Linked DNA regions of Homo sapiens: region 2 is linked to region 1. Evidence: fine-mapped expression QTL. A gene starts in region 1. The other region holds a variant in brackets. All regions are shown on one strand. Distances are between the middles of the regions.

The links. PIP is the estimated chance that this variant, and not a neighbour inherited with it, causes the effect. A credible set is the group of variants that fine-mapping cannot tell apart.
Region 2: its variant is the best candidate, but not a certain one, in a credible set for the expression of PSEN1 in whole blood (INTERVAL, PIP 0.51).

Annotation. Positions count from the first base shown.
Region 1 is chr14:73,133,866-73,139,396 of GRCh38, forward strand. It overlaps PSEN1 (presenilin 1), which reads left to right and starts at 2,642. Exons shown (of 12, transcript NM_000021.4): 1 at 2,642-2,718. RefSeq lists silencers at 2,422-2,501, 2,762-2,821 and an enhancer at 2,992-3,101.
Region 2 is chr14:73,156,456-73,161,455 of GRCh38, forward strand. The region is part of intron 3 of PSEN1 (presenilin 1); the gene reads left to right. Among named protein-coding and RNA genes, the nearest start is that of PSEN1, 22 kb to the left of the region's middle. The variant C/T (reference allele first, on the strand shown) is at 2,204.

The DNA.
Region 1 (5,531 bases):
TCACAAGGTGTTTGGTGGGGAGCTCCAGAGACATTATCCAGGAGAAGGAATGTCACAAGGTAATGTCATCAGTTAAGGCAGGAACTGGCCATTTTCACTTCTTTTGTGGTCCTTCAGTTGCCTCAGGCCATCCGGATGTATACGTGAAGGCTTGGGCTCAGAGGCCTAACAGTAGGACATAAAGAAAATGAGAAGAAAATTATCTGAAGGCTGGTTATTCAATGTTAGGGTTTGCTATTTTTTTAAAATCTTACTGCCTTTTTGTTGCAGGACTTTTTTTTTTTTTTGGGAAAAACAGAGTCTCACTGTGTCTCCCAGGCTGGAGTGCAGTGGTGCAAACTCGGCTCACTGCAAACTTTCCTTCTCAGATTCAAGCCTCAGCCACCTGAGTAGCTGAGATTACAGGCCCACACCACCATGCCGGGCTAATTTTTGTATTTTTAATAGAGACGGGGTTTCACCATGTTGTCCAGGCTGGTCTTGTACTCCCAACCTCAAGTGATCCTCCTGCCTTGGCCTCCCAAAGTGCTGGGATTACAGGCATGAGCCACCGTGACCAGGCGTTCATGAAAAATTTTCATGACATTCTGTGAGGTGGGTGGACCATAATTTATTGTACCACATTTATTTATTTATTTATTTATTTATTTATTTATTTATTTATTTATTTTTATTTTTTGAGACATAGTTTCGCTCTTGTTGCCCAGGCTGGAATGCAATGGCGCAATCTCGGTTCACTGCAACCTCTGCCTTCCAGGCTCAAGCAATTCTGCCTCAGCCTCCCAAGTAGCTGGGATTACAGGCATGCGCCACCACGCCTGGCTAACTTTTTTTGTATTTTTAGTAGAGACGGGGTTTCTCCATGTTGATCAGGCTGGTCTCGAACTCCTGACCTCAGATGAGCCGCCCACCTTGGCCTCCCAAAGTGCTGGAATTACAGGCGTGAGCCACCGCACCCTGCCTATTGTACCATATTTAGTTTCCCAATTTTTTGCTATATAATATTCCATGAATATCTTTGCCCAAAATTTTTGTAGATTGTTTCTAAGAATAGTTCATCAGCATTTTAAGACATCCTATTAATATTAGCGGACTGCAATCAGATTGAAGTAGTTCACAAATAGATGGGTTTTAGCCTGTATTTGTTCAATACTGAACTATTGTATGTATCAGGCACTGTTATGTATCAGGCACTGTTCTCAGCACTTGTAAAATGTATATGTGCTGCTGACAAGCATGAGCACTTGTAAATGAACAAACTAAAATCCCTACTCTTGTTAAAGTGGGGGAGGTGAAGAATTTTAAAAACATCTTTTTTCGTTCAACCTTCTCCCACAACTTATCTTTCATTCTGCTAATGGAAAATATTACTTTTGTTCTTAAATATGAAGCTTTTGTGTGTAAAAAGTATTAGAATCTCATGTTTTTGAACAAGGTTGGCAGTGGGTTGGGAGGAGGGATTGGAGATTGATGCGATAGGAATGTGAAGGGATAGCTTGGGGTGGATTTTATTTTTTAATTTTAATTTTTATTTTTTGAGATGGAGTCTTGCTCTGTCTCCCAGGCTGGAGTGCAGTGGTGTGATCTCAGCTCACGGGTTCAAGCGATTCTCCTGCTGCAGCCTCCCGAGTAGCTGGGATTACAGGAGCGCGCCACCACACCCGGCTAATTTTTTTGTATTTTTAGTAGAGACGGGGTTTCACCATGTTGGTTAGGCTGGTCTAGAACTCCCAACCTCATGATCCGCCTGCTTCGGCCTCCCAAAGTGCCGGAATTACAGGCGTGAGCGACTGCACCCGGCCGCTTGGGGGTGGATTTTTAAAGAAACTTTAGAAGAATGTAACTTGCCCAGATACCATGTACCGTTAATTTCATTTTCGGTTTTTTGAATACCCATGTTTGACATTTCTCCGTTCACCTTGATTAAATAAGGTAGTATTCATTTTTTAGTTTTAGCTTTTGGATATATGTGTAAGTGTGGTATGCTGTCTAATGAATTAGACATTGGTACTGTCTTTACCAAAACTGGACAAAGAGCAGGCAGATGCAAAAATCAAGTGACCCAGCAAACCAGACACATTTTCTGCTCTCAGCTAGCTTGCCACCTAGAAAGACTGGTTGTCAAAGTTGGAGTCCAAGAATCGCGGAGGATGTTTAAAATGCAGTTTCTCAGGTTCTCGCCACCCACCAGAAGTTTTGATTCATTGAGTGGTGGGAGAGGGCAGAGATATTTGCGATTTTAACAGCATTCTCTTGATTGTGATGCAGCTGGTTCGCAAATAGGTACCCTAAAGAAATGACAGGTGTTAAATTTAGGATGGCCATCGCTTGTATGCCGGGAGAAGCACACGCTGGGCCCAATTTATATAGGGGCTTTCGTCCTCAGCTCGAGCAGCCTCAGAACCCCGACAACCCACGCCAGCGCTCTGGGCGGATTCCGTCAGGTGGGGAAGGCCAGGTGGAGCTCTGGGTTCTCCCCGCAATCGTTTCTCCAGGCCGGAGGCCCCGCCCCCTTCCTCCTGGCTCCTCCCCTCCTCCGTGGGCCGGCCGCCAACGACGCCAGAGCCGGAAATGACGACAACGGTGAGGGTTCTCGGGCGGGGCCTGGGACAGGCAGCTCCGGGGTCCGCGGTTTCACATCGGAAACAAAACAGCGGCTGGTCTGGAAGGAACCTGAGCTACGAGCCGCGGCGGCAGCGGGGCGGCGGGGAAGCGTATGTGCGTGATGGGGAGTCCGGGCAAGCCAGGAAGGCACCGCGGACATGGGCGGCCGCGGGCAGGGCCCGGCCCTTTGTGGCCGCCCGGGCCGCGAAGCCGGTGTCCTAAAAGATGAGGGGCGGGGCGCGGCCGGTTGGGGCTGGGGAACCCCGTGTGGGAAACCAGGAGGGGCGGCCCGTTTCTCGGGCTTCGGGCGCGGCCGGGTGGAGAGAGATTCCGGGGAGCCTTGGTCCGGAAATGCTGTTTGCTCGAAGACGTCTCAGGGCGCAGGTGCCTTGGGCCGGGATTAGTAGCCGTCTGAACTGGAGTGGAGTAGGAGAAAGAGGAAGCGTCTTGGGCTGGGTCTGCTTGAGCAACTGGTGAAACTCCGCGCCTCACGCCCCGGGTGTGTCCTTGTCCAGGGGCGACGAGCATTCTGGGCGAAGTCCGCACGCCTCTTGTTCGAGGCGGAAGACGGGGTCTGATGCTTTCTCCTTGGTCGGGACTGTCTCGAGGCATGCATGTCCAGTGACTCTTGTGTTTGCTGCTGCTTCCCTCTCAGATTCTTCTCACCGTTGTGGTCAGCTCTGCTTTAGGCATATTAATCCATAGTGGAGGCTGGGATGGGTGAGAGAATTGAGGTGACTTTTCCATAATTCAGGTGAGATGTGATTAGAGTTCGATCTGCGGTGGTGGCAGAGGCTTACAAGAAACACTAACGGGACATGGGAACCAATTGAGGATCAGGGAATAAAGTGTGAAGTTGACTAGGAGGTTTTCAGTTTAGAACATGGCAGAGACATTCTCAGAAATAAGGAAGTTAGGAAGAAAGACCTGGTTTAGAGAGGAGGGCGAGGAAGTGGTTTGGAAGTGTCACTTTGGAAGTGCCAGCAGGTGAAAATGCCCTGTGAACAGGACTGGAGCTGAAAACAGGAATCAATTCCATAGATTTCCAGTTGATGTTGGAGCAGTGGAGAAGTCTAAGCTAAGGAAGGGGAAGAGGAGGCCAAGGCAAACACTTAGGAACACTTGCAACGAGGGGGTGGAAGAAGAGCAAGGAGCCAGCTGAGGAGAATGAGTGTGGTTGGAGAACCACCACAGCGCAGGGTCGCCAGAGCTGAGGAAGGGGAGGGAAGCTTCAGGAAGGAAAAGGTTGGCAGGGATTTTGAGTGTTAGGCCTGGTGTAGCAGAAGGAACAGAAGATTTAGAGCAGCGCTAGCCAATAGAAATAAAATGTGAGGCCCGGGGCGGTGGCTCACGCCTGTAATCCCAGCACTTTGGGAGGCCGCGGGGCGGATCCTTGAGCTGAGGAGTTCGAGACCAGACAACACGGCGAAACCCCGGCTCTACAAAAAATTAGCTGGGCGTGGGGGCGCGCGCCTGTAGTCCCAGCTGCTCCCAAGCGAGGCTGAGGCAGGAGAATCACTTGAACCCGGGAGAAGGAGGTTGCAGTAAGCCAAGATTATGCCACTGCACTGCAGCCTGGGCAAAAGAGTGAGACTGTCTCAAAAAAAAAAAAAACCTGTTTTGTTTTTCTTTTGGAGAAAAGGCATACAAATTTATTAGCATGCAGACTGGGAGAACCACAAGGTGATTATCCCTATTTTAAATTTTCTAATAAACATACTATTATTTATTTATTTATTTATTTATTTATTTATTTATTTATTTTTTGAGACGGAGTCTGGCTCTGTCGCCCAGGCTGGAGTGCAGTGGCGCGATCTCAGCTCACTGCAAGCTCCGCCTCCCGGGTTCACGCCATTCTCCTGCCTCATCCTCCCCAGCAGCTGGGACTACAGGCGTCCGCCACCACGCCCGGCTAATTTTTTTGTATTTTTAGTAGACACGGGGTTTCACCGTGTTAGCCAGTATGGTCTCGATCTCCTGACCTCGTGATCCGCCCGCCTCGGCCTCCCAGAGTGCTGCGATTACAGGCGTGAGCCACCCTGCCCGGCCGGCTATTTATTTTTTTAGAGATGGGAGCCTCACTATGTTGCCCAGGCTGGTCTTGAACTCCTGGAGTCAAGTGATCCTCCCGCCTTGGCCTCCCAGAGTGGTGGGATACAGGCACAAGCCACTGTGCCTAGCCATAAACACATTTTTAAAGGTAAAAAAAGGCCGAGCGCGGTGGCTCACCCCTGTAATCCCAGCACTTTGGGAGGCCGTGGCGGGCGGATCATGAGGTCAGGAGATCGAGACATCCTGGCTAACACGGTGAAACCCCATCTCTACTAAAAAATACAAAAAAAAAAAAATTAGCCGGGCGTGATGGCGGGCGCCTGTAGTCCCAGCTACTCGGGAGGCTGAGGCAGGAGAATGGCGTGAACCCGGGAGGCGGAGCTTGCAGTGAGCGGAGATCGCGCCACTGCACTCCAGCCTGGGCGACAGAGCCAGACTCTGTCAAGAAAAAAAGAAAAAAAATGTAAAAAGAGGCTGGGTGGCCGGGCGCAGCGGCTCACGCCTGTAAACCCAGCACTTTGGGAGGCCGAGGCGGGTGGATAACCAGATCAGGAGATGGAGACCATCCTGGCTCACGCGGTGAAACCCCGTCTCTACTAAAAGTACAAAAAATTAGCCAGACATGGTGCCAGGCACTTGTAGTCCCAGCTACTCGGGAGGCTGAGGCAGGACAATGGCGTGAACCCAGGAGGCGGAGCTTGCAGTGAGCCGAGATCGCGCCACTGCACTCCAGCCTGGGCAACAGAGTGAGACTTCGTTTTTTTTTTAAAAAAAGGCTGGGCACAGTGGCTCACACCTGTAATCTGCCAGCACTTTGGGAGGCCGAGGCAGGTAGATCACCTGAGGTCAGGAGTTCGAGACCAGCCTCGCCAAAA
Region 2 (5,000 bases), 22 kb after region 1:
TTTAGAAATACATACTAAAATATTTATGAAGGAAATGATATATCTAAGATTTGCCTCAAAATAATACTGGAGTGGCAAAGTGAGCGGGGGAGTAGATGAAACAAGATTAGCATGAGTTCATAATTATTGAAGTTGAATAAATTGCACATGGGCTTCATTGTACATTTCTGACAGTATTTGTTTGAACTTTTTCCATAATAAAAAGTTTTGTTTGTTTTTTTTTTTGAGATGGAGTCTTGCTCTGTCACCCAGGCTGGAGTGCAGTGGCATGATCTCGGCTCACTGCAAGCTCCGCCTCCCAGGTTCACGCCATTCTCCTGCCTCAGCCTCCAGAGTAGCTGCGACTACAGGCGTCCGCCACCATGCCCAGCTAATTTTTTGTAATTTTAGTAGAGATGGGGTTTCACTGTGTTAGCCAGGATGATCTCGATCTCCTGACCTTGTGATCCGCCCGCCTGGGACTCCCAAAGTGCTGGGATTACAGGCATGAGCCACCACGCCTGGCCTTTTTTTTAAAATGGTCTTACAGGTAATACCATGCATGCTTAAGTCATCATTCTCATATTTAGCTACCAAGATTTTTCCTTTCGGAAATCCCTCAGTATTCTAGTACCACTTTCCTCTCATTTGACACTTTTCAAAGCACCTACACACTCCCTTGAGAAAGATACCTTTTTTTTTTTTTGCGAGGGAGTTTCACTCTTTTGTTGCCCAGGCTGGAGTGCAGTGGCATGATCTTGGCTCACTGCAACGTCTGCCTCCTGGGTTCAAGCGATTCTCCTGCCTCAGCCTCCTGAGTAGCTGGGATTACAGGCACGCACCACCACACCCAGCTAATTTTTTTGTATACTTTTTTTTTTTTAAGTACAGATGGGGTTTCACCGTGTTGGCCAGGCTGGGCTCAAACTTCTGACTTCAGATGATCCGCCTGCCTCGATCTCCCAAAGTGCTGGGATTACAGGCGTGAGTCACCACGCCCAGCCCAAGAAAGATACATTTTTAAAAACAGCTTTATTGTGGTATAATTGACGTAAAATGTACATACTTAAAGTATACAGTGTGATGTTTTGATATATATGTATACTCTTGAAACCACCACCACAGTTAAAATAATGAAAATGTCCATTACCTCCAGAAGTTTCTTCATGTTTTGTTGTAATCTCTCCTTCTCCTCCCTGATTCCTCCCCATCCCCAGGCAACCATGTTTTGTCACCGCGCGCAGCCATTTACTATTATGATACTATTTTATATAAATAGTATCATACAGGCCGGGCACGGTGGCTCATGCCTGTAATCCCAGCACTTTGGGAGGTCGAGGTGGGCGATGACTTGAGGCCACCTGGCCAACATGAAACCCCTTCTCTATTAAAAATGCAAAAATTAGCCAGGGGTGGTGGCGTGCACCTGTAATCTCAGCTCCTCAGGAGGCTGAGACATGAGGATTGCTTGAACCCAGGAGGCAGAGGTTGCAGTGAGCTGAGATTGTGCCACTGCACTCCAGCCTGGGCAACAGAGTGAGTCTCTGTCTAAAAAAAAAACAAAACATACAGACTCTTGTCTGGCTTCTTTCTTTCAGCATAATTATTTTGAAATTCGTCCATGTTATGTGGTTCCTTTTTATTGCTGAGTTGTATACCACAGTTTTTGATCTATTTACTTGTTGGTAGATATTTGGATTTTCAGTTCTGAAGCATTACAGATAGTGGCTGTTACGGATATTCATGTACAGATCTTTCTTTGTATGGGCATATGCTTTAATTTATCTTGGGCAAATACCTAGGAGTAGAATATGATCCAATATGGTAGGTGTATATTTAACTTTTTTTTCTATCTATCTATCTATCTATCTATCTATCTATCTATCTATCTATCTATCTATTTTTAAGACGGAGTTTTGCTCCATCTGGAGCAAAGGCTGGAGTGCAGTGGCATGATCTTGGCTCACTGCAACCTCTGCCTCCTGGGTTCAAGTGATTCTCCTGTCCCAGCCTCCCCAGTAGCTGGGATTACAGGCGCCTGCCACCACACCCAGCTAATTTTTGTATTTGTAGTAGAGGCTAGGTTTCTTCATGTTGGCCAGGCTGGTCTTGAACTACTGATCTCAAGTGATCTGCCTCGGCCCCCCAAAGTGTTGGGATTACAGGCGTGAGCCATCACACCTGGCCAGTTTTTATTTATATTTTTTATAGAAGATGGAGTCTT[C/T]CTATGTTTCACAGGCTGATCTTGAACTCCAGGCCTCAAGTGATCCTCCCGCCTTGGCTTCCCAAAGTGCTGGGATTATAGGCATGAGCCTCTATGCCCAGCCTTATATTTAACTTTTTAAGGTACTACCAAAGAACTTTCCAAACTGGTTGTATAATTTTACATTTCTACCAGCAGTATGAGTTCCAGTTCCTCCACATCCTGTCAGTACTTGATACTGTCAGTCTTTTAAATTTTTTAGCTCTTATAAAAAGGTATATAGTTACATCTCATTTTGGTTTTAATTTACATTTCTCTATTGAGTAATGATGTTGAGTTTCTTTTCATGTGCTTGTCATCCTGATATCTTTGGTGACTTGTCTGTTCAAATCTCTTGCCCATTTAAAAATTGCTTTCTTAATGGATTTTAAGAATTATTTACATAGTCTGGATACAAGTCCTCTGTAATATATATAATTTGCAAGTGTTTTCTCCCAGACTGTGGCTTTTCTTTTTATTAACAGTGCTTTTTGAAGGGCAGATTTTTTTTTTTTTTTTTAAAGAGACAGAGTCTTGCCCTGTCACCCAGGCTGGAGTATAGTGGTGTGATTATAGCTCACTGCAGCCTCAAACTCCTGAGCTCAAAGAATTCTTCTGCCTCATTCTTCCAAACAGCTAGGACTACAGATGTGTGCCACTGCACCCAGCTAATTCCGTTTGTATTTCATTGATTGTGTTTTTGGTGTCACATCTTAAGAAACTTTGGCCTACTTCAAGTTCTCAGGAGTTTTTTCCTGCATTTTCTTCTGGAAGCTTTATAGTTTCATGTTTTACATTAGGTCTGTGATCCTTTTGAAGTTGATTGTTATACGTGGTCCAAGGTATGGATCAAAGTTCATTTTTCTGCATATGGATATTCAATTGTTTCAGCACTGTTTTTTAAAAAAGACTATTTTCTCCACTGAAGTGCCTTTGTACCTTTGCAAAAATCAGTTGTCCATATATGTGTCAATCTGTTCCATCAGTCATGGGTCAAAGGCTGTTCTCATGGGGAGGCTTTTGAATTTGAAAAACTGAAACTCTATACTCATTGGACAACTTTATACCCATTGAACAACTCCCCATTTTCCATTTCTCTCAGCCCGTGGCAATATGCTTTCTGTTTCTATAACATGGACTACTTGAGTTTTTTTCTTTTTTTTGATGACAAGATCTCACTCCGTTGCCCAGGCTAGAGTGCAGTGGCATGATCTTGGCTCATGGCAGCCTTCACCTCCTGGGCTCAAGCTGTCTTCCCACCTCAGCCTCCTGAGTAACTGGAACTACAGGTGCACTCTATCATGCCTCGCTAATTTTTTAATTTTTTTGTAGAGACGAGTTCTCGCCATATTGGCCAGGCTGATCTCAAACTCCTGGGCTCAAGTAATCCTCCCACTTTGGCCTCCCAAAATACAGAGATTATGGGTGTGAGCCATCATGCCCAGCTGGCTAGATATTTCATGTAAGTGGAATCATACATTATTTCTCTTTTAGTGACTTGCTTATTTTGCTTAGCATAATGTCCTCAAGGTTCATCTATATTGTAGCATGTGACAAGATTTCCTTTTTAAGGGCTGAATAATATTCTGTGTTATGTATATACCACATATCTGTGAGTAGACATTTGGGTTACTTCCACTTCGTGGCTATACTGAATAATGCTATGGTGAAAGTGGCTATGCACATATCTGTTTGAGGTCTTGTTTGTAATTCAGTTCGTTTTTATATATACTCATTGGTATTTATATAAATGGGATTGCTGGGTCATATGGTAGTTTAATTTTTTGAGGAACCTCCATATTGTTTTCCATGGTGGCTGCACCATTTTACATTCCCACCAACAATGCATAGTGGTTCCAATTTCTTCACAACTTTACCACCGCTTGTTACTTTCTGTTTTTTGGTAGTGGCCATCCTAACGGGTGTAGTTTTTTTTTGCATTTTTCTAATGATTAGTGATGTTGAGCATCTTTTCTTTTTTCCCCCCATATTACACAGATGTAGAGCATCTTTTCATGTGCTTGTTGGCTATTTGTATATCTTCTTTGAAGAAATATCTGTTCAAGTCCTTTGCCCATCTAAAAAAATCTGATGATTTGTTTTTTTCCAATTGTTTAATTGTAGGACTTTTTTTTTTTTTTTTTTTTTTGAGATGGAGTCTCGCTCTGTCGCCCATCCTGGAATGCAGTGGCGCGATCTTGGCTCACTGCAAGCTCCACCTGCCGGGTTCATGCTATTGTAGGACTTTTTAATGTATTCTGGATATTAATCTCTTACCAGATATATGATTTGCTTTTTTTTTTTTTTTTTTTCGATACAAGGTTTTACTGTGTCACCCAGGCTGGAGTAAAGTAGTGATGTAATCTGGGCTCACTGCAACTTCCGCCTCCCAGGCTCAAGCAGTCCTTCCACCTCAGCCTCCTGAGTAGCTGGAACTATAGGCACTCGCCACCATACCCACCTAATTTTTGTATTTTTTGTAGAGACGGAGTTTCACCATGTTGCCCAGGCTGGCCTTGAACTCCCAGGCTCAAGCAATCCACCTGCCTTAGCCTCCCAAACTGCTGGGGTTGTAGATGTGAGCTACCACACCCAGCCTGATTTGCAGATATTTTCTCCAGTTCTGTAGGTTGCCTTTTCACTCTGATGACTGCTTCCTGTGGTGTGTAGAAATTTGGTGTAGGCCCATTTGTCTATTTTTGTTTTTGTTCTTTAATTTCTCTTAGCAATATTTTGTAAGTTTCATTGTACAGGATATTTGGGGATCTGTAAGACAACC